7 linked regions of the Homo sapiens genome follow. The protein of the gene in region 7 interacts with the protein of the main gene of each other region in a pairwise test. Each region holds a gene or a part of one and is shown on either strand. Other genes may lie near its edges.

The links.
Region 1: the proteins of KIF1B (region 7) and EED interact in binary tests that used the Homo sapiens proteins (3 or more experiments, as listed by UniProt).
Region 2: the proteins of KIF1B (region 7) and DMRTA1 interact in binary tests that used the Homo sapiens proteins (3 or more experiments, as listed by UniProt).
Region 3: the proteins of KIF1B (region 7) and WDR77 interact in binary tests that used the Homo sapiens proteins (3 or more experiments, as listed by UniProt).
Region 4: the proteins of KIF1B (region 7) and SPPL2B interact in binary tests that used the Homo sapiens proteins (3 or more experiments, as listed by UniProt).
Region 5: the proteins of KIF1B (region 7) and PRKAB2 interact in binary tests that used the Homo sapiens proteins (3 or more experiments, as listed by UniProt).
Region 6: the proteins of KIF1B (region 7) and PLEKHB1 interact in binary tests that used the Homo sapiens proteins (3 or more experiments, as listed by UniProt).

What each region holds. Positions count from the first base shown.
Region 1 is NC_000011.10:86,258,253-86,261,752, forward strand, and holds part of EED (polycomb protein EED), read left to right. Parts: intron 1-3,500. UniProt on the Homo sapiens protein: Polycomb group (PcG) protein. Component of the PRC2/EED-EZH2 complex, which methylates 'Lys-9' and 'Lys-27' of histone H3, leading to transcriptional repression of the affected target gene.
Region 2 is NC_000009.12:22,453,032-22,456,240, forward strand, and holds the end of DMRTA1 (doublesex- and mab-3-related transcription factor A1), read left to right. Parts: 3' UTR 1-2,709; downstream 2,710-3,209.
Region 3 is NC_000001.11:111,442,824-111,446,256, reverse strand, and holds part of WDR77 (methylosome protein WDR77), read left to right. Parts: intron 1-2,132; coding exon 2,133-2,203; intron 2,204-2,335; coding exon 2,336-2,390; intron 2,391-2,862; coding exon 2,863-2,934; intron 2,935-3,433. UniProt on the Homo sapiens protein: Non-catalytic component of the methylosome complex, composed of PRMT5, WDR77 and CLNS1A, which modifies specific arginines to dimethylarginines in several spliceosomal Sm proteins and histones.
Region 4 is NC_000019.10:2,352,684-2,355,595, reverse strand, and holds the end of SPPL2B (signal peptide peptidase-like 2B isoform 2 precursor), read right to left. Parts: intron 2,651-2,912; coding exon 2,387-2,650; 3' UTR 501-2,386; downstream 1-500. UniProt on the Homo sapiens protein: Intramembrane-cleaving aspartic protease (I-CLiP) that cleaves type II membrane signal peptides in the hydrophobic plane of the membrane. Functions in ITM2B and TNF processing.
Region 5 is NC_000001.11:147,162,471-147,165,970, forward strand, and holds part of PRKAB2 (5'-AMP-activated protein kinase subunit beta-2), read right to left. Parts: intron 104-3,500; coding exon 1-103. UniProt on the Homo sapiens protein: Non-catalytic subunit of AMP-activated protein kinase (AMPK), an energy sensor protein kinase that plays a key role in regulating cellular energy metabolism.
Region 6 is NC_000011.10:73,649,581-73,653,080, forward strand, and holds part of PLEKHB1 (pleckstrin homology domain-containing family B member 1), read left to right. Parts: intron 1-972; coding exon 973-1,125; intron 1,126-2,207; coding exon 2,208-2,310; intron 2,311-3,394; coding exon 3,395-3,434; intron 3,435-3,500.
Region 7 is NC_000001.11:10,360,570-10,364,069, forward strand, and holds part of KIF1B (kinesin-like protein KIF1B), read left to right. Parts: intron 1-359; coding exon 360-474; intron 475-1,122; coding exon 1,123-1,256; intron 1,257-2,713; coding exon 2,714-2,775; intron 2,776-3,500. UniProt on the Homo sapiens protein: Has a plus-end-directed microtubule motor activity and functions as a motor for transport of vesicles and organelles along microtubules.

The sequences.
Region 1 (3,500 bases), on a different chromosome or scaffold from region 7:
AATACTACATATGAAAATTCATATTGCTTTTTTATTTTTTAAAAAAGCTTTTGTTTTATAAAGGATTTCCTATAGAATTTCTTAAAAATGCTACGTTTTTCAGGATAAGTTATTTGAAATATTCCCATAAAGGGAAAGCATTGCATTTTGGAAATCACTACCTCTAGGAAGAGTTGATTACTTTTTCTTGTCTCTTGATAACACTAATTGGGGCTCAGATATTTCTGAACAACTGTATAGACCGTAATGCCTCACTTGTTCTAAATATTACAACTTTTTTTTTCTCTTTTCTTTGTTTTTTGGTTTTTTTTTTTTTTTTTGAGACAAAGTTTCGCTCTTGTTGCGGAGGCTGGAGCGCAATGGTGCAATCTCGGCTGACTGCAACCTCTGCCTCCCGGGTTTAAGAGATTCTCCTGCCTCAGCCTCTCGAGTAGCTGGGATTACAGGCATGTACCACCATGCCCGGCTAATTTTTGTATTTTTAGTAGAGATACGGTTTCTCCACATGGGTCAGGCTGGTCTTGAACTCCTGACCTCAGTTGATCCGCCTGTCTCAGCCTCCTAAAGTGCTGAGATTACAGGTGTGAGCCACTGCGTCCTGCCTCTATTTATTTATTTATTTATTTATTTTTGAGACAGAGTCTTGCTTTGGCGCCCAGGCTGGAGTGCAATGGCTCTATCTCGGCTCACTGCAACCTCTGCCTCCTGGGTTCAGGTGATTCTCCTGCCTGACCCTCCCGAGTAGCTGGGATTACAGGCGCCCTCCACCATGCCTGGCTAATTTTTTTTATTTTTAGTAGAGATGAGGTTTCTCCATGTTGGCCAGGCTGGTCTCAAACTCCTGACCTCAGGTGGTCCACCCGCATCGGCCTCCCAAAGTGCTGGGATTATAGGCGTGAGCCACTGCGCACAGCCCAACATCACAACTTTTAACCCTGGTCTTCCTCTATTGTGTCAGTAAGAGCATTTTTAAAAATCAGAAGTTTGAGCATGAATAAGAATTTTGCTCCAAGTGATACTATCAAGAAAGTAAAAAAGCCTACTCAAAAGGAGAAAAAATATTTATAAATCATTCTGATAAAGGACTTTGATTTTTATTTTTTGTTTTTGGAGACAGGGTCTTGCCCAGTCACCCAGGTTGAGTGCAGTGGTGTGATCATGGCTCACTGTAGCCTCAACCTACCAAGTAGTTAGGACTACAGGCACGTGCCGCCATACCTGGCTAATTTTGTAAAAAATGTTTTTGTAGAGATGAGGTCTCCCTGTGTTACCTAGACTGGTCCTCAAACTCCTGGCCTCAAGCAGTCCTCCTACCTTGGCCTCCTAAACTGCTGGGATTACAGGCATGAGCCATGATTCCCAGCTAATAAGGGACGTGTATCAAGAATTTTTATAGCTCAACAATAAAAAGACAGCCCAATTTAAAAATGGCCAAAAGTTCTGAATGACATTTCTTCACAGAGCATACACAGATGGCCACTGAGCACATGAAAAGATGTTTAACATATTAATCATTAAGGAAATACAAATCAAAACCATAATGAAATACCACTTCACACCTACTTAGGGTGGCTGTAATAAAAACGTTAGATACTAACAAGTATTGACTGGCACAAGAAGAAATCAGAGCCCTCTCAGACACTGCTGGTGGGAATGTAAAATGTAACTACTTTGAAAAACAATCTGGCAGTTCCTCAAAATGTTACAGAGTCACTAATCCTAGATGTTTACATATGTATGTATATCCTAGGGTTGTGTGGGTGGGGGTGTACATATGTATCCCCAACAGAAATAACATGTCCATACAAAAGCTTGTACAAAATTGAAATCAAGGAATCATTTTTACAGCACTGTTAATTTTCACATGTATTACTACCTCTGGGGTGTTTATGTGATGCATTTATATTCACAGACAGAATGAACATTGTTATATTTCAAGCTTACATGACGTGTCTTTGCTTTACATTCTTTCTTTTTTTTAAATACTGTTTTAGAGACAGGATCTCACTCTGTCAACCAGGCTATAGTAGAGTGATGTGATCACAGCTCACTGTAGCTTGAGCTCCTGGCCTCAAGCAATGTTCCCACCTCATCCTTCTGAGTAGCTGGGACTACATGTGCACACCACCATGCCTGGCTAATTTTTAAAAATTTTTTGTAGAGATACGGTTTCATTATGTTGTCCAACCTGGTCTCAAACTCCTGGCCTCAAAAGATCCTCACACCTTGGCCTCCCAAAGTGCTGGGATTACAGGTGTGAGCTACTGCTGTACATTCTTTATTAATGTTTAATATAACATTGCTCAAATTATAGCTGCATAATTTTTGAAGAGGGACTGTCATTCTATAAAATTGTGCATGATATATGTAGTTATGTTTTCAGCTTACTGTAAAAATCATAAATCTCAGTCCCCTTTCAATTTTTTAATGTGAGTATGGTGAAGGGAAAAGCTAGTATCTTGTTCTGTGGGATAAAATTGCTTATGTCAAATCTGTATTTTATTTCAAAAGTATATTTCCATCAAATTAGGTTATTTAAAGAAAGTTATTTGAGATAAATATGCTTAAAATATTTTTCAGACCACATGAATATTTCTGAACTTACTGTCTTAGTCCACTTTAACCTGGCATTAGAAAGTAAGAACAAGAAATTGAACTTGAAGCCTTTTTTTTTTTTAATATATAATTGGAATTAATTCATTCATAAGAGTGGTACTCTCATGACCTAACGCTTCTCATTAGGTCTCATCTCCCAACACTGCTGCATTGGGATTAAGTTTCCCAACCTGCTTTTTCGGGGGTTCATTTAAGCTGTAGCATTCTGCCTCTAGCCCCCAAAATTCAAATCCTCAATCAGATATGGGTGAGACTCAAGGCAGGATTCCTGCTGAGGTAAATTCTCCATCTGTGGGTCTGGGAAATCAGGCATCTTATCTATTTTCAAAATACAGTGGTAGGATAAGCATAGGATAGACAGTCCCTTCCAAAAAGGAGAGATAGGCAAGAATAAGGGTAACTGGTCCCAAGTAAATCCAAAACTCAACAGAACAAACAAGATTAAATCCAAGGCACCAGAATAATCTTCCTTGGCTCCATGTTTTGCCTTCTGGGCATGCTGGGTGTGGAGTTTGGGCCCCAGAGGCCTTGGGCAGCCCCATCTTTATGGGTTTGCCACGTGCAGCCCACATAGCATCTTATGAGTTGGAGTCGGGTGCCTGCAGCTCTTGCAGGCTGGTGGTGTGCCCTGGTAGCTCAGCAGTTCTGGGATTTGGGGGATGGCTTTTTCCCCATGGCTCCACCAGGTGTTGCTGTAGTAGGAACTGCTGTGTGGCTCTGCCCTTCTGAAAAGTTTCTGCCTGGAGCCCCAGGCTCTTTGTGATGTCTTTTGAAATCTAGAGAGGAAGCCGTGCCTCCACAGTTCCTGCATTCTCTGCATCTGCAGACTTAACACCACATGGACACTGCCAAGATTTGCTGCTTGTACCTTCAGAAGCTATGGC
Region 2 (3,209 bases), on a different chromosome or scaffold from region 7:
GCATTTGAAAACTATTTATTTCAGTCAGTGGAAAGTCCCTGAGGAAACTGCTTACAAAACAGTTTCTAGGACATTTTCTTTGTATGTCATCATTTTTCTTTTTTGAAGGACAGTAGCTTCATTGTTATTATTAGGAATAAATGGAAGCCCACTGGTGGTAAAAGATAGTTGATGAATTAGAGATTGTTTAAACTATTTAAGCAGCATGACTCACTAAAGATTTTTTAAATTATATGTATATACGTATGTGTGTATGCATCTATATGCACATATATAAGTCTATGTAGACATACATTAAACCCCTATAGGTTATATTATCATGGAGGCGTTTTTCATGAAGCCAGTAAGAATGTATTTCCAAGGAATATTTTGCCAGCAAATGTGATATTAAATTACTTCAGAGTATCTGATGCTGATTTAGGATGTAAATGTGTTTATTAGGTTATGCATTAATTTTAATGGTGTGAATATAAGAAAGCAGATCTTGAAAAATTTCGATGTACTCAATATTCATTTATTATAAAAAAGTTTTATATTCTAAGCCTAAACCGTAGTACAATGTCTAGCAAGTAGTTGAAATTCAATTCATATATACTGAGTAAGAAACTCTTATATATAATAGATCTCTTTGAGACTCTGATAAAACTGAAGAACTCTACAAAATGGCGTACAGACACACAGTTTTGCATACAATTTCACTGGGTTCTTGAATCTCCTAAATGGTATTCAGGTTAGATTCCTTGGTGATTCTTCAGTTGTTTCTATTGCATTAATCCACTTATTGAATGCTATTTTTCTGAAAAGTGCTAGATCCTGTAGAGGATACTGAATGTAAAATATTGTGCTCTAAAGGAAGTTACATTATACAATAGAGATATGGTTTAAAAAAAAATCCTAGAGTTACTGCATTATGTATGTGGTTTTATAATGATGTGCTTGTATCTGAGAAACTGAATTGCTTTTGACCTTGGGAGAACATCCATTTTGGGCAGTATTCGAATTTATAAAATAGTTTTATAATCATAAAACTTAATTTATATAATGCCTTACACATTCCATACTCTTTATAATAATTTAAGGACTTAATCTTATCAAATAGGTCATTTGTCTAACAACTCAGTAGTATATGAGGAAATTGGGGCTCAGCAGTAGGGTTTTTTCTCCCTAAGGTTAGTAATATGAGTCATCTGCAGTGGAATTACTGTGCTCACTTCAGCAATTTCAGACTCCAATGTCTGAGGAAGGATTCATGTCTGTTTTTTTCATTCATGGCCTTGAACAGTGTCTGATATAGGTTCTCAACCTATACACTAGATTTCCACTGACTGAAAAAAAATAAAAGCAAGTATTAGCTTAATAATTTCTTCATTCAACACCTATTTAATATTTTTAATAATCTATTTGTGCCATGCACTGTGTTAGACACAAGAGATAAAGAAATGATTAAGATACAAGACTTTGCCTCAAGTTGCTCACGGTCTATATTGTGTGTACAAAAACAACCAATCAACCAATGTTGGTATTATTTGACAGTGTTGGTACATCAATGAGTTCTTTGTAATCTTGATATTTATATCCATGGATGCTGCTTGAAGCCTGAACTCCTAAGCCACTAATTAGTGGTGGGAAGAAAGAGGGGGTAAATGCTTTAAGAGCTAGCATATAACAAAAATGAATTGGGTTTATTCTGTATCATATAGAGGGCCTAAGAGGCAAACATTTCATAGAGTATTCAGAAGAACATAAGGAATGACTTTTTTCACAGTTAACAGCTGTCCAAGAGTGTAGTGGCTGCCTCGTATGATAAAGCATCTGGAACTCATTGAAAAATGCATGTAGAAAATACCAATCAGAGCCTGATTGATGGGATTTTTAATTACTGCTTTAATATTGGGACTGAATCATTTTGTAGCTCATTAGAAACATGGAAAGTATTTGTTAAATAAATAAGTCATGGAATTTCAATTCTAAGGCCATGAAAATTAAAACACCCTACCATTATTTATCAATAAAACACAGTGCAGTTTTGCTCATCAGAATTTTGCCTATGTGATAGCCTCCTGAGAGTAGGCAGAAAAGAAAGACATAGAACGCAGTGCGTGACTTACAAGGGAATAAAACTGACAGAGGTTAGTGTAAGGTATATAGGCATGAGTGGGGCTTAAAGAGGATATGGGAGAACACTGAAGACAAATATTAGTACAATTCCTATAAGGTAAATACCAATATGTCTTTCTAGAAGAAGCAATTGTTTTGGAATTGAGGAAACCTAGAATGGATTTATCTATATGACTTGGACAGGTTACTTATACTCTTTGGACATTTATTTCTTCTCAGCAAAACAAGGGTAATAATATTTAACTTGCAAGATTCGTGGAGATAAAAGCTTAAATAAACGGCAGAGTACAGTAATGCTTATATACGGGATGCTAAATAAATAACTCTCACTGTTATTACTTTGTATTAAGATATTATCTTTGCCCCCTCGTGGCAGTCTCTCAACAAAGAGTACTGTAATTGCATTTAATCCACTTAGTGGATGTGGAGCCCAAAGGGCAGCCATCACTAGAGCAGCGTACAGGCTTAGTTCCAGACTTCGTGTTTGGTTGTTCATTTCATAGGCGAGCCACGTGTTTTGTAACATATTCTCGTATATGTTATTTGGATTATTTTCAGGGCTTTCTGAAGAAAATAAACATCGAAATCATAGTTTGTGTTTATGCTACATTTATTGGGGTTGTCAGGAAAACAGAGTCCATGTAATATGTGGAAATAAGGGAGTTATAGAAATTTAACCTAACATAAACAAAGGAGGAGCTTGAAAATGAATGTCTGGAAGAGGGAAATTGGCAGATAAGAGAAAGATTCACTCATCTACTTGAAGCACTGGTGTGGGCTGACAAGTGGGAACTGAAGCTCTGTGAAGTCCAGCATGTCCAATCACTCAAATGGTTCCCAGCCAGGGGTTCTGAAGGGGGGCTATGGGAAACCAGTGCCTCTGTGTAGGTTCTAGCTCTGTTGGTCTGTGAGCAAACACCTGGTGGTGAACCTGTGCCACCATGGGTCAGTGAGGTCAGAAGGCAGGAAGACAAGCTAGATGTGGAGTAAGGAAAAGTGAAGACAGCCTGGAAATCACTGGGTATCTAACCTTAATGACTTGTGTTTCACTTCTACCTTAACAATCTCACCATAATTCCTTTTTCTGGGCC
Region 3 (3,433 bases), about 100 Mb from region 7:
CAAGGTTTAGATGCTGGGGGATCACTGTGGTTCTCTCAATGGCTAAGTGCCTTTCCCTGCCATTTCTAACTTCAAAGTACATGACTAAGTTATAGGCCAGAGAAATCACTGACTCATATCCAAGGTCCAGTATCCTGGACCCTCAGGGTCACTTGGAAATAGTTTTACAATAATGTTGAATGCCCAGCTGTGCGCAGTGGCTTAACGCCTGTAATCCCAGCACTTTGGGAGGCTGAGGCGGGTGGATCATATGAAGTCTAGGAGTCAGAGACTAGTCTGGCCAACATGCCGAAACCTTGACTCTACCAAAAAGTACAAAAATTAGCCAGGCGTAGTGGTGCACATCTGTAATCCCAGCTACTTGGGAGGCTGAGGCCCGAGAAGTGCTTGAACCCTGGAGGCGGAGGTTGCAGTGAGTCGAGATCACGCCACTGCACTCCAGCCTGGGCAACAGAGTGAAACTGTCTCAGGGAAAAAAAAAAAGTCAATGTTCTATGTCTATTATATTTGCTTTTTATTTCTTAGACATATGATGTGCTTTCCTGGTTAATGCTAACTCTTTTTCAGCATTTCTGCCATGCAGCCTTTTTGTTAGTTCTTTGTGTTTGTGTCTTATTCCCCCTGCTGAATTCCAAATCCTTTATTATTTTTCTATTTTTTGTAGAGACAGAGTCTTGCTATGTTGCCCAGGCTGGTCTCAAATTCCTGGGCTCAAGTGGTCTCCTGCCTTGGCCTCCCAAAGTGCTGAGAGATACAGGCATGAGCCACTGCACCCTGCCCCAAAACCTTTGAGGGTAGAGGAACCATGTATTCATCTTTTGTACACCACCATGGTGCTTGTCCCAGAGCTTTGCTTTTTTCAAGTGAGCAATAAATTCCTTTTCTTACTTCTTATCCTGTTGGCTTTCTATGAATTCTAGGGCTAGGAAAGAACTATGGAAACTGGTTTAATTCCATCCTTCTGCCTCAGGGAAGGGCCACATTCAGACTACCTGGGAAAGTCTGGTAAAATGACTGTAGAAAAGGTTTCCACAGCTTCTAATTAACATGTAGCAGTGACTTTAAAGTTTTTTACATGTAGACCTCCTAAAACAGTTTTGAAAATCTGTGCCCCCTCATACATTTTTAAACTGATACCTAAAAATGCTTATTTAAGTAGTTGCAGAGAAGGTAATTTCTGGCATATAATTTATTGTGTGCTTATTTCAAGCATATATTTGTCAAAATTTTAGATTCGCAGGTTAACGCTACTTAGTTTGCATGAATGTCTACCAAACAGCCTAACTGGCAAAAGCCAGTCTGCATTGTAAAGCCAGTGGACCAAGATAGACTAAATTTTCTGTCAGAAAAAGTCTGACTTTGTTTTTAAATTCAGATAAAGTTGTTGAATATGTCCTTATCACAATGATCTATCATATTTTTTAGTTCTCATTATTAGACAGAAACAGAGTTAAGTCACAGAGCCATACTTGTGTTTGTGGTGTGACTGAAACAAGATCAGCCCCCTTCATTGAATTTTACCTAGATGCTCTTTCTTTTTGCTCTTTGGTTCTTATGGAAAAGCCCCTTTTGTCCCTTAGTTTAGAACCCTTATATTTTTATACCCCTGAGCATTGTAGCGTGGAAAGATCTGGGATGAATGACAGGTATGTGTTCTTTCTATGAAGTGGGAGAAGAGTGATTGAAAACAGAGGCAGTTCAATTTTAAGAAAGAGAACATTAGAGAAATTGGCTCTCTTAATACTATTAGCGCCCAGAACTCCCTCAAAAGTTTTTGTATACTACTTGGAGGTGTGTGTACTCCAGTATGAAGACTGCTATTCTAGAATTATTTAGCCCTCACGTCTAGGATGCCTAAACTGGAAATTCCTTTGTTATTCTTACTAAGCCCCTAATTTCTCATTCATTATCTTCACTAATACGTTTTTTTTTTACAAGGCTTTTTAGGTTTTATAAGTCTATAAACTTCTCCTCTTAGCTTTTGTCTAATCCATAATCTCCCACAAAATTTGTTAAATTGCATCATGAGACCAGCCCTCCCTCCCTCCTGCCCCTTGATTATTCCTGGGCTGGCCCTCTAGTAATGCTTCAGCTTGTTTTCTATCATATTTCTCTTTCTCTCTCCTTTATAGCTCATGCTGCTCAGGTCACTTGTGTTGCTGCCTCTCCTCACAAGGACTCTGTGTTTCTTTCATGCAGCGAGGTAAGAGATAGCTCCTTCTTCCCTAAACACACTCCAGCCATCCATAGGCCAAAGTCTCTAGTGGGGAGACTTTCTGGCCTGCAACTGCTCCTTTGGATTATGAAATCCTTTTTCTGTTCCACCTTCCTCTAGGACAATAGAATTTTACTCTGGGATACCCGCTGTCCCAAGCCAGCATCACAGATTGGTGAGTCTGAGATTCATTGGTGGGAGAATAGTACTTGGAACCCTGATAGAAGAGACTGTCTTTGGCCAGTGTCAAAGCATAGTTGCTAGATGCCCAGTGTAGTTACTGTGACATGAGTGACATAATCTCCTTCTTTTCCAGTGAGGCTCTGCTAACCCCATTCTGTGCAATGAATACCAAGAGGAAGGGCCAGTTCCTGGGTGGGTGATTTACTTTATTAGATGGTAGGACAAAGGGGCCAGAATTGTTATCGTCATGATTCGTGCCTGAAACTTGCCTGTGACTCGTGTCCAGAAAGGGCAGGAGGCTGCTGGGATAAATGGTTATGAGGCTCAAGGATGAGGACACTGCTGCCTTAGCAGGGTTTGGGAAATCAAATAAAGGTGCTCCCAGGATTTAGAGTGATATCATTTGAGAAACTGCTTCTTCTGTACTCTGAGTTTTGGTCCAGACCCTCGTCTCTCCTTTGCAGGCTGCAGTGCGCCTGGCTACCTTCCTACCTCGCTGGCTTGGCATCCTCAGCAAAGTGAAGTCTTTGTCTTTGGTAAGGCAGCGTGTCAGACTTCATATTGACTCTGGGAAAGGGGAGGAGGAAAAAGAAAGAGCTGACTCCACAACACACAAGGCCCTTGTTGCTCAGTCTTAGCCCTCATGGACACTAGATGAATTATGAATTGAGGGTGGGGAGGTGGGGTGATGCCAACGTAGTTTTAGTGTAGTTTTGGAGAACATGATTATTTTCCCAGTGGATTTGATTTTTGATTGATTGATCCAGCTTCTGTATTCTGGGCATGGCTATAAGTCAGTGATCCACAAAGCAAGTGGATTGCTATATAGCGAATTCTGTCCTACTGTGGGTAGGTGTAGCGCTATCGTGGTCATGAGGCTGTGTATATGGTGACATAGTTTGTGGTTAAAATAATAACTGCTTCGTTCATTAACTTAATTTTCACAATGATCCAGTGACTTATTATTCCTACTTTGCAAAAGAGAAAACTGATGCTCAGAATGGTTAACTTTTACAAGCTCGAGGAACTAGGATT
Region 4 (2,912 bases), on a different chromosome or scaffold from region 7:
TGGTCTTAAACTCCCAGGCTCAAGCAATCCTCCCACCTCAGCCTCCCAAAGCACTGGGGTTACAGGCGTGAGCCACCATGCCCAGCCTGGGTCTCACTTTCTCTAACGTAGCGGAGAACTTTGTGAGACTAGAACAACACACACAGCAGCCCCTGATGCCTGGCAGATGCTCAGGACTCACTGGCCTCTCGGCCCGCACACAAACCCGCATCCATCACCCACGTGCCCACAGGCCCAGCGCCAGCCAGCAGCAGCTGGAAACCAAACCTTGTCCCAAAGCGGCTAAGACAGGTCTTTGCATTTTTAAAGAGAAAAAAATAATAATAAACTCTTTTGAGACGTGAGGATGCTATACAATTCCAATTTCAGGGTCTGGCGAGAAAATTACTTGAGGGATGGGCGTGGTGGCTCGTGCCTGTAATTGCAGCGCTTTGGGAGGCCGAGACAGGAGGATTGTCTGAGCTCAGCAGTTCGAGATCAGCCTCAGCAACACTGCAAGACCCCATCTCTATTTTAATTTTGTAAAAGGTATTTTGGCCCATTTTACACATGGTCTGTGATGCTTTCCAGCAACAGTGGCAGAGCTGAGAAGCGTGACAGGGACCACATGGCCCACAGAGCCCATGGGAGTGACGCTGGGCACCTCACAGCACTGGCCGGCCCTGCGGTGGCAATTCCAATCCGTCCTCTGCAGGACAGCCAGGCGGCCTGCCAGCTCTCAGTTCTGCTCACCGGGACCTGCACAGAGCAGATGCCCCAAGCCGTGCACTGCGGAGGCAGAGGCCGGGCCATATGTATCAAAAGCTGTGTTTAATGATCAGACGGAATGGCAGCAAGGCCACACGGACAGACGGAGCCAAGGACAGGACCGCCGCCTCTGAACCCCTCCCCACTGGTCAAACGTCCAACACCAAAAAAGAGACGTCCCCACCCCGTCCCCATGTACAAAATGGCTTCAGTGAAGGCGCCATTACTCCCTGGGAAGCTGGTATTTTTTGTAAGGGATCAGGGCTCACCCCTGCCACCCTCTGTCCGGAACAGACCCGTGAGAGCGCAGCGCTCAGCAGTCCCCGTGTGCAGCTGGGGACGACTGACTTGACAGAAACAGATTCTGGACTCGAGTCTGGAGGCCGCACTCAACAGGGCGGGTGGCGGGCGGGAGCTGGGGCCCAGGCACCACAGACAGCCAGGGTGCGGGCTCTGTCTCTGCGGCCACAGGGAGCGCTGCTTCGGAAGTGACCACGTGCAGCGAGGGGAGGATGCCGGGGCCTGGGGCCACGCCTCGGTCAGTTCCCGCACGGACGTCTCTGCCCTGGAGTCAGGAGGACCCCATCAGTGAGTAGACCATGCCAGTGGCAGATGTCCTCGTGGGTTCCAGAAGCTCCTAGCTGCTGGGTCCAGAGGGTTAAGAACCCAGGCACCAATGCCGCTGCCACAGGGAGAACCGAGGCCCAAGCCCCTCTCAGCAGAAAAGCAACACGGGGCCCACACGGGAAGCGAGGTTGGGTGCCGGGAGCTACCAGGACCTCCCACGACCCAGTCCCTCCCTCCCAGGGCTCCAGGGACCCCTGAGGGCCTGACCCAGCCTGCCTGGCGCCCACCCCTGCTTGTCAGAAGGGCAGTCTGAGAGACGTCCACCCCACCAGGTGGCACCAGCAGGACTTCTAGAAGTTGCGACCATTTATTAAAATGGGGAGGAGTGTGCAGGCATGGCCAGGCACCTCTGGCTGAGGGCAGGGCAGGGCCTTAGCCAGGGGAGCAGCTTGTCCACTTACTGCCAGCCTTGTTCACGCCCCAAAACCCCGCCCCACGGGCCTGTCTCAGCCAGCGTCAGGGGCCAGAGGCCGCCCCGGCCACTGGTCCGTGTCCTAGGCTTGGAGGCAGCTTCCAAACCTCCCAGGGGCTCCGATCTGCTCAAGAGGGAAAAGCGATGCCTTCTGGGAGACAGAAAGCTGCTCTTCCACCCGGAGAGCAGGATGCCGTGGGGAGGGAGGTCACCTGAAGGCCGAAGCAGCTGGTGAGCACCAAGTGTGGCCGCGGCCAGAGTCCACCCACGCCTGCTCACTCATGCAGACGACGCTTGAGGGTCTGCAGAGAGGCCGGGCAGGGCCTGCGAGGACGGACCCCGGTGGGGAGGATGGACCCGCAGAGAGCTTGTGGCAGCCGGGCGAGCTGGGAGCAGCAGGCGTGCAGCCGGGGCAGCTGGGCTGGGCGCGGGCACAGACCGCAGGGGTCTCGGCAAGGATGAGCACCATGTTGGGGCGGGTGGGGACGGCACAGGCCTCGGTCCCGGGGGACAGGCGTCTGTCTGTCTGTCTCCAGTGGGCGCCAGGCAGCCCCAACATCTTGGTGTGGCGGGCACGGCAGCGAGCGTCTCACCCCTCCCCTAGGCCGAGGCGCCAGGCTGGGTTACCGGGGACGGCTGGGCCTGGTCCCGGCCCTCGGATTCAGCTGGGCTCCCAGGCTCCCGCATGGGGGCTCCAGCCCCCATCTCCTCGGACGTGCGTGATTTTGGGGACTGCTCAGCAGGCCAGGGGGATGTGGCTGGTTCTTCGCTGGGCGGCTGCGGGGAGAGTGGCGTGGCAGAGTCTTTGGGAGGCTGCGGGCCGTCGGCTGGTGCTGGGGCCCACGGAGATGGAGGTAGGACTTTCTACAGGAGAAGGGAGGCAGAGGTGAGGCGGAGACAGGGACCCAGAGGAGGACCCTGGCAGGGGCCAGGACACCCAGCACCCGCAGGCCACGGGGGCAGGGTCAAAATGAGGCGCCATCCCCAGGGGCTCTGGACCCAAGGAGGGGGCCGGCTCCATAACCTACGGGCACCCAGGACCCTGTCCATCGGCACAGGTGCCGCGGGAGGGCCATCCGAGGCCAGCAGAGGCTGGGAGCTGTGCAAAGCCTCTCCAAAGAAAAGC
Region 5 (3,500 bases), about 140 Mb from region 7:
TGAAGTAGATGAGGAGGAAGGATGGGTGGGGATTTGAATCTTTCCTCAGATCGAAACGCATACATTTCTTGACCATAAGGCCCTGGGGGTGAGCTGGAAAGGTCTGAAAGATATTTATACAAATATGAGAAAGAGTTGGAGAATTAGCAAGAATGCATGGAAAAAGCTATCAATACATGGCAGCTAACATTAAATATGGTAGAAGTCCTGGATCACAAACTTGTGACCTGTGGGATCTACAGCTGTAAGGTAACCAGAGGAAAAATCTGAGTCCCCTGGACATAAACCATGAAGCTCCTCAACATAGCAACATGATTTGGGAGACAGACAAAGATATAAAGACTCAAAGACCCAGGCTCAGGGAAGAGCTACTACATGTATCAGCTGTAGGACCTTGGAAGAATCCCTCCACAATGGTCAGTTTCTTTATAAAATAAAAATAATCTTTGCCCTATTTCATGATGTTTTTAAGGAAATCAAATTAGATAATGGATGTAAAGATGCCTTGTAACTTTCAAACAATGGGAAAAGATTAGATTTTTTCTTTTTTCCAGCCAAACAACAAGGTTATAAACTCCTAAGACTACCAATACAACAATGATTGCAACAATAAGGACAAAATGTATGTAACTGTCATTAGGGAAATGCAAATCAAAACCACAATAAGCTACCATTTCATACTCACTAGGACAGCTAAAATCAAACAGACAGACAGTAATAAGTGTCAACAAAGGAATGGAGAAATTGGAACGCTCACACTATTCCCACTGCTAGAGGGAATGTAAAGTAGTCCAGCCACTTTGGAAAACAGTTTGGCAGTTCCTCAAATAGTTAAACATAAAGTTACCACATGACCCAGCATTATACACTGGGTATATACCCAAAAGAAATGAAAACATATGTCTACACAAAAACTTGTACACCAGTGTTCATAATAGCATTATTTATAATAGCCAAAAAGTGGAAACAATCAAGATGTCTATCAACTACTGAATGGATAAACAAACAGTATGTCCACACAATGGGCTCTTATTCAGCCATAAAAAAGAGCGAAGTACTGATACATGGTTAGAACATGGATGAACCCTGAAAACATTATGCTAAGTGAAAGACGCCAGTCACAAAAGACCACATATTGTAGGATTCCACTGATATGAAATGTCCAGAACAGGCAAATCCTTAAGACAGCAAGACTTGTGGTTGCCAGGGACGGAGGGGAGGAGGGAATGGGATGTGACTGCTAATGGGTACAGGGTTTATTCTGCGGGTGATAAAAATGCTCTGGAATTAGATAGTTGTGATAATCACATAACTCTGAATATACTAAAAATTACTGAGTTGTACAATTTAAGAGTTAATTTTATGATGTATAAATTACATCTCAAAAAAATGAAAAAAAGTATGCAGACAAGAATACAATATACAAAAATGAAGAGAAATATATTATAATATATTTTATTTAAATGTTATTGTTTCTTTTTTGAGAGAGGGTCTTGCTCTGTGTCACCGAGTCTGGAGTGCAGTGGCTTGATCACGGCTCACTACAGCCTTGACCTCCTGGGCTCAAGTGATCCTCCCACCTCAGCCTTCAGAGTAGTTGGTACTAAAGGCACATGCTACCATGCCCAGCTAATTTTTTGATTTTTTTTGTAGAGACAGGGTCTCACTATGTTGCCCAGGCTGGTCTCAAACTCCTGGACTCAAGTGATCCTCCCACTTCGGCCTCCCAAAGTGCTAGGATTACAGGTGTGAGCCACCAAATTCATTGTAAGAACTAAGTTCCAGTGTTCCGTTGCACAGTAGAGTGAATATAGGTAACAATAATGTAACAAAATAAAATAGCTAGAAGAAAGGATTTTGAATGTTATCACCACGAAGAAACGACAAATGTTTGAGATGAATATGCTAATTGCCCTGACTCGATCATTACACATATAAAATGTATTGAAACATCACATTGTATCTCATAAATATGTACAATTGTTATGTGTCAATTAAAAATAAAAAATACATATAAGGCAAAAGAAAAAAGCAGAAGTAATACTCTGATATTAAATAATATCTTTAAAACATATGGAACTTGAAACCTTACAAAGTATTATGCTTTGTTATTTCGTCACATGATCCACAAAATACCCTTGGGAAGTGCACAGAATAGTTTTTATTGCCTTTTCACCAGAAAAAAATAAATACAAATTGGTTATTTGCCTAAAGTTACATACATGGATAGACAGTAAATGAGTGCAGACTAAAATCCATTATCTGTAGATTCCTAGTAAAAAATGGATTATAAGCGTTACCTCAATAGATTGGGAAATTAGGAGAAAGGGAAATATCAAAAGTATGCAAGTCTTCTCTCTATATAATTATGATACATGTCTATTTATTGGTTACTTTGCCAGAATTATATAATGCAAAAATTAGTCACAAGTATCCTCATAATCTAATTCAGCATTTTAAAACCCTTTTAAATTACTGTCCCACCAGTCAAAAATAATGCCCAATTTAACCTTCTGAGCTTATATGATGAAAACAACATTTTCAAAAGTTTCCTCAACAGATGATTACACTATTAATAATAGTCTCGCTCTGTCGCCCAGGCTGGAGTGCAGTGGCGAGATCTCAGCTCACTGCAAGCTCCGCCTCCCGGGTTCACGTCATTCTCCTGCCTCAGCCTCCCGAGTAGCTGGGACTACAGGCGCCTGCCACCACACCCAGCTAATTTTTCGTATTTTTTAGTAGAGATGAGGTTTCACCGTGTTAGCCAGGATGGTCTTGATCTCCTGACCTCGTCATCCACCCGCCTCGGTCTCCCAAAGTGCTGGGATTACAGGCCTGAGCCAGTGTGCCCAGCCAATAATTTCTTTTAAAAACAGCAAAGCCACCCTTCTCCCCTGAAATTCAAATATGTTCCACTTAAGGTATTGTGCCTCCTCAGCTGAGAATCACTGAAAGTTTAAGTCCCTGGTTTTACTGTGAAGAAACTCAGAACGAAAAAGGTTGAGAGATTTGTTCATGATGGCAAAACTAGTTAGTAGCAGAGGCAGGCTTTGAACTCACAGGAGAGAAGTGTGCTCACTGGGAATACTGTGCACAATTCTTTAGATAGTTCTTATTGTAAAGTAACAAAATGGTAACTACAAGTGTGGTTAGCAAAATATTCTCTGATACTATAGCAATTGTAAGCAGAGATGAAGGCCTTGGCTCAAATAATATTAGAGGAAATAAAAGTGTAAAGATATTTTCCGCTACCATAGACTTTTTTTTTTTTAACCAAAAATTTACAAAATTTCAATTACCTACAACAGAATTGTCAGGGGGCAGGGGGGTGGTTGTCTTGTTTTTGAGGCAGTATCTCACTCTGCTGCCCAGGCTGGAGTGAGGAGGCTCAAACATGCTTCACAGCAGCCTCGACCTCCTGGGCTCAAGCAATCCTCACGCCTCAGCCTCCCAAATTGTTGGGACCACAGGCATGTGCCATTACGCTCGGCTAATTTTTA
Region 6 (3,500 bases), on a different chromosome or scaffold from region 7:
TTGTGCTTTGGAATCCACAAAGCCCTAAGAAGCTCTCTTATGTCTTTGCCCTTCCCTGTTAAGATTTCCAGTTGCAAAATGTCAGAAGCTCGGTCTCGGGCTTCTAGACCCACCTCTGACCAGAGTCATGACCTGAGCAAGAGCTATCCTGGGGACCCCTGGGACAAGCAGCCCCATGCCCCATACCCCTGCCCATTCTCAGTTCATTTAGTTCAGCAAACACTGAGCCAGGTCTCCCTGGGTGCCAGGACCTGCGTGGGGAGCCATAGCCCCCAGAGTGGTACAGGAGGCAGATGCTACACAAATAACCATCACACAAGTCAGAGATGAGAGATAAGAGGCCGGGCACAGTGGCTCATGCCTGTAATCCCAACACTTTAGGAGGCTGAGTTGGGAGGATTGCTTGAGCCCAGGAGTTTGATACCAGCCTAGACAACATGGTGAGACCCACTGTCTCCAAGAATACCTACCTGGCTAATTAAAAATTAGCCAGGTGCAGTGGTGCGTGCCTGATGTTCCAGCTATTTGGGAGGCTGAGATGGGAGGATCACTTGAGCCCAGGAGGTTAAGGCTGCAGTGAGCCATGCCTGTGCCCCTGCACTCCAGCCTGAGTGACAGAGCAAGACCCTGTCTCAAAGACAGAGAGAGAGAAGATGCAGGCTTAAGGTAGGGAGAGGTCTTTGCCCTTGAAGAGACCTGGGGCTTGGCCTTAGAAGCTTCCAAGTAATGGGCCCAGTCACTCATTTCCCTGTTCAGCACGTGTATCGAGCTTCTGCTATGCATCAGACCCAATGGGAGGCAGGAGGTGAACAAGACAGAAAGAGGTCCTGCCCTCATTTCAGGGGGTAGACAAGAAAAAGGTGGTTGTAACACTAGGGACTGAGGCTGAGGGGACTTGGGAGTCTGTCTGGGGCTTCTATTCCCAGCAGGCTCTGGGATCAGCCTGCCTAGTGCATCTGGAATATCGTACAGGCTCCATCCTCCGCCGCTGGAAGCGGAACTGGTTTGCCCTGTGGCTGGACGGGACCCTGGGATACTACCACGATGAGACAGCGCAGGACGAGGAGGACCGTGTGCTCATCCACTTCAATGTCCGTGACATAAAGATCGGCCCAGAGTGCCATGGTGAGCAGAAGCCCCTTCCTCTGTGGCACCGTGACTGTGGGCAGAGCCTCCCGCTGTCTCCGAGAACACTTGCTGTTGGAAGTCTTTTTGCAGCTTTCAGAGGCATTTCACAGACATTGCTTCTGAGCCTCTGTCAACTCCAATTCAGTTTGGTGTGAGTTAAGAAATAGGTCCTTGGCTGTGTGTGGTGGCGCATGCCTGTAATTTCAGCACTTTGGGTGGCTGAAGCGGGCGGATCACTTGAGGTCAGGAGTTCTAGATCAGCCCGGCCAACATAGCGAGACCCTGTCTCTTAAAAAAAAAAAAATTGGTGAGATGCGGTCACATATGGCTACTGGGGAGGCCGAGGCAGGAGAATTGCTTGAGCCCAGGAATTCAAGGCTGCAGTAAGCTATGATCCCAGTACTTTGAGAGGCATGTAGATTACTTGAGTCTAGAGTTCAAGACCAGCCTGGGCAACATGGCAAAACCCCGTCTCTACCAAAACAAAAACAAACAAAAATTAGCCGGGCATGGTAGTGTGTACCTGTAGTCCCAGCTACTTAAGAGGCTCAGGTGGGAGGATTGCTTGAGCCTGGGAGGCAGAGGTTGCAGTGAGTGTTCATGGCACTGCACTACAGCCTGGGGGACAGAGCTAGACCCTGTCTCAAAAAAAAAAAAAAAAAGAAAAAGAAAAATCAGTCCTTTAGTGCCTTTCTCCTCTGTGCTGTCTCAGAGGTGAGCCAGGCACAGTTCCTGCCCTCCAGGCGCTCGGTACTGGATGAAGACGAAATGAAATTAGGAGGCCCAGAGAAGCGAAGTGGCCCAGAGTCACAGCAAATCTCCACATTCCTCCACCAAGGCCCAGGCCACAGTTCTAACAGGGTAACTGGGAGGTGTGCTGAGGGAAGCCTCAGCATGGAAAGGTTGGAAAGGTTGGAAACGTAGAGTGGAATCCCTCAGAGAGTATATGGGATCAGAGGAGGTTGGCAGTGGCCAGTAAACAGAGCCCAGAGAAGTCAATTCCTATTCCTGTCCCTGCTTTACTGGGGGGACCTGGGGCTTGTGCCTGTGGAAACCCATATATGTGTGTCTGCTTCCAGATGTGCAGCCCCCAGAGGGCCGGAGCCGAGATGGCCTGCTGACTGTGAACCTACGGGAAGGCGGCCGCCTGCACCTCTGTGCGGAGACCAAGGATGATGCCCTGTGAGTCACTCCCAGGAGAGGATGGGGTGGAATCTCGGGGAAAGTTACCATGTGCCCCCTTCTCATTGGGCCTTCTGGTTCTCTGACCGTAGGAAGAGGGCACTAAGGCCAGTCAGCAAGGGAGTCTTATTGGAGGCGGGTGGAGTGGATTTGAAGGGCTTGTGGTGACTGGCATGGCACACAGTGAACTCCTCATGTGGTCTACAGTGAACTCAGGATTGCTGAGGGGGAGGTGTGCACACCTGCCTCAGGTATCTGGTTCCTGGTCTTTAGCGGCCTCTGAGGTGAGCCCTCACCTGAGGGTGATGCAAAGCAGCAGAGCAGCCTAGTGGCACCCTTGCTCCCTTCTTAGAAGATGCCCTGGTGGGGGACTCTGATCTGAGGGGTAGCCCTGGACCTGCCTACAAAGGCAGTCAGCTGCGTCCCAGGCAGGGGCACCCCAATGTCAGATGCATATCCACGTGGCCAGCCTGGGTGTGTCCTTCTCAGGCACCATCTGCTGGCTCACATTCCGTCCCTTCCTACCCTCTGGCTAAGGGGTACATGGCCTTTGCGCTGGAGGAGAGTGAAAGAGATGGGTGTGTGGGAGTGGGGGAAGCTGAGCTCCAGGCAGACAGCACAGAGCCGCCTTGTCCAACCCAGCCAGGTGCCATGGCAACCAACAAAGGCCCCATTGTCCCGTGTCTGCTGGGCCTTCCTGAGGCTCTGGGGTCAGAGCTTTGGGGAAGTGTTTTGTTTGTAGATTTGGGATGTGGAGGGGGACTGGGCTACAACACCCACCCAAGAGTGTCAGAATCTGACATCCCCTGAGAGACCACCCAAGCCCAACCGTCCACTGTATAGATGAGGAAACTGGAACTTCTAGAGGGGACGAGAAGAATGAATTAGCCTAACTTAGTGCTCCATCCATGTGACTGGGGCAGGGGAGGGGTCACTTTTGTCTTCCTGAGGGAGACAAGAGATCTCTCCTTTCATGAGAGACTTGGGCTTGAGGCTGGGTTGGAGAGGAAAGTCTAAAATGTGGGGGCCCAATTCACCCACCCCCAAACTCCCTCCTCATGGTCTGGTGGGATTTGCTTTGCAGAGCATGGAAGACAGCACTGCTGGAGGCAAACTCCACCCCGGTGAGTCTCCCGTTCTCTCCCCCTTTCCCCACCACCTCCATGTGCCATGGAATCATGAGTGACTCA
Region 7 (3,500 bases):
AGCTACTCGGAAGGCTGAGGCAGGAGAATCACTTGAACCCGGGAGGCAGAGGTTGCAGTGATCCGAGATTGTGCCACTGCACTCCAGTATGGGCAACAGAGCAAAATTCTGTCTCAAAAAAAAAAAAAAAAAAGCACAACTAAGTGTTCCTTAATGATGGGTGGGGTTGGGAGCAAGAGGATGGGGACCTATCTTTTCCTCCTAGGAGATAAGGGTTCCTCTCTGTTATTAGAGTTTGATAAACTGAAAGTGTCTGTTGGTTGGCGTATGGTTCTTTAGGATGATTGACAGTGGCAGTACCTGGACTAACGTGACTTTAGCTTCTTTTGGATGATTCCCTCTTGTCTTTCTGACCTTAGGACCTTCTACCGCTTTGAGGCTGTGTGGGATAGCTCTCTGCATAACTCCCTTCTTCTGAACCGAGTGACACCCTATGGAGAAAAGATCTACATGACCTTGTCGGCCTACCTAGAGGTGAGGAGACTTGGAACTTCAGTTGATGCCAACAGTCAGCCCTGAACAGTGTGCAGGTTACAGCAGGAAGTGGTCAGCGAAGATTCCACTTGTTTTGTCCTCTTTCTTCCTCCACATCCTTAAGTTTTTCATTTTATTATACATTGCTAACTCTTCTGATTATATTAGACTCTATTCCTGGGTTCTGTTTACTCAAAAAATCACATGACTCATTGCAGCTTCAGCTTTAGTAGCCTAATCACCATTGTTTGAAGAATGTGTGATTTTTAAGAAAATGTCACCTCTTGTTTTTGTAGTTGTGGACAGAGTGTAATAGTGGTTAATAGCCCAGACCCAAGACCCAGCCTGTCGGTTCAAATCCCTGTGCTGCCACTTACTTCCTCTATGTCCTTGGAGAAACTCTCTTTGCCTCAGTTTCCTCACCTATCAGGAGAAACAACATTTACCTCAGATAAAAATAAATGCATCTCTAAGGAGTACTACCTACTCTTGCACATATTATCCATTGGGTGGCTGTTGAAATAATTGGTGGAGCTAAAATCCTTCAGTTCTCACAACTGGGACTCGCTTTCCAAATACGTTCGTGTATAGACTCTAGTCACAGTACTCTGCCTGCACTTCATCAGCACCTACCCTGTCTGCTTTCAGCTGGATCATTGCATCCAGCCGGCTGTCATCACCAAGGATGTGTGCATGGTCTTCTACTCCCGAGATGCCAAGATCTCACCACCACGCTCTCTGCGTAGCCTCTTTGGCAGCGGCTACTCAAAGTCACCAGATTCGTAAGTTTTTCACACAAGTTAGCTTCCAGTGTGTTTGTTCAGTACAACAGAATCATTAGTCCTTAAGTATTCTCGGCTTACTGTCTCACGGTTAGTTTACAGTTTATGAACCATTTTGGTAACTGACACCTGGAATGTACTGACTTGCATGCTGACATTTAATAAAATGTTGATGGATGGACGAGTTATGAGGGAAGGAAGGAATATTACATTGTGAACACGTCTAAAACAATTTTGCAAAGACTAAATTTGCAAAGACTTTTAAATGTCATCATCATTATTTCTAACAGAGTACCATTGAAATTTTCTTCTTTTTAAGATTTGTTATGCATATTTAAGGCATACAAAATATGTCAGGAATAATACAGTGAAGGCCATACACAGTGGCTCATGTCTGTAATCCCAGCACGTTGGGAGGCTGAGGACAGAGAATTGCTTAAGCCTAGGAGTTTGAGACCAGCCTGGGCAACACAGACCCCATCTCCACAGAAAATTTTAAAATTACCCAGGTGTGGTGACACACACCTGTAGTCCCAGCTACTCAGGAGGCTGAGGTGGGAGGATCACTTGAGCTTGGGAGGTTGAGGTTGCAGTGAGCCATGATAGAGCCACTGCACTCCAGCCTGGGTGAAACAGTGAGACCCTGTCTCAAAATTTAAAAAAAAGAAAAGAAAAAGGAAAAAAAAAAAAAAGAAAGAAACAATACAATGAATACCTGTGTATCACCGCCCAGCTTAAAAATAAGTGTTACTAATACAATAGAAGGTATTATACCTCCTACTACTCACAATCCCCAGAAGTTGTTGATTATCATTTCATTCTAGTCATTGTTTCCCTCATATCGTCTCTCTTATAGTAAGAAAAGACAAATTTTTAGTTTTCACATTTATATTTTAAATTTTCTAGTTTATCATTCAATTTTATTCACCCTATTGAAATAAAGTGTTTAAAAGATAGAGATGAGGTGGGGCATGGTGGCTTATGCCTATAATCTCAGCACTTTTTGATGCCAAGGTGGAAGGATCACTTGAGGCCAGGAGTTCAAGACCAGCCTGGGCAACATAAGGAGACCCTATCTCTACAAAAAAACTTAAAAATTAGCTGGGTATAGTGGTGTATGCCTGAAGTCCCAACTACTCAGGAGGCTGAGGCAGAAGGATCACATTAGTCCAGGAGTTCGAGGCTGCAGTAAGTTGTGATTACATCACTGCACTCCAGCCTGGGTGACACAGGGAAACCCTATCTATAAAAAAATTAAATTGAGATGAAAGCGGACTCCTCTAGGAAAAGGTATGCTACTTAGGTTCAAAATAAGAAAAGAGCGGTGACAAATAAGAAATGCCTGGAATTATATTTGAGTCCCTGCAGAGAAGACACTATTTTAAGTAGCAGAAATTGAAATTTTCCTGTTTTTGTGCTTTAAGAGATTAAACAATTGTTTTATTTTCTTCAAATAGGAATCGAGTCACTGGCATTTACGAACTCAGCTTATGCAAAATGTCAGACACAGGTAGTCCAGGTAAGCTCTTGTGGATTGAGGAGGTGATAGTTATCTTTGTGTATGTTTCAAGTATCCTGTATTTAGGCTGGGCACGGTGGCACACACCTGTAATCCCAGCGCTTTGGGAGGCCAAGGCGGGTGGATCACCTGAGTCCAGGAGTTCAAGAGCAGCCTGACCAACATGGTGAAGCCCCCCTTTCTACCAAAAATACAAAAATTAGCCAGGTGTGGTGGCGCGTGCCTGTAATCCCAGCTACTCAGGAGGCTGAGGCATGAGAATTGCTTGAACCTGGGAGGCAGAGGTTACAGTGAGCCGAGATTGTGCCACTGCACTGCAGCCTAGGTGACAGAGTGAGACTCAGTCTCAAAAAAGAAAAAGAAAAAAAAATCAAATTATTAAGTCAGATTTGTTCTGTATTCTTTTTAATGTGTTTTTAAACTGCTCTTGTTCCTCTAGCTAGGCGGAGTTAAGCAGCACTTAGCATTTCTATGTTTGTAAACCGAAACATGAACAAAAGTTAAGGTTTTCTAATAGCATTTGATTAATGTGAGTTTGAGTCATTTTACAGAATATACATGGAAAACAAGTCAGGGCCCACAGGCAAGACTTAGATAAGTAAAGAAGACTTTGAGTATGAATCCAAGTAGCACCTAATTATTATACTATCCAGATAGTTTCTTGAGGAATTTTTTTAATTAATATAAATTCATGTATTTAATATGTAAAACCAGCATAATACTAA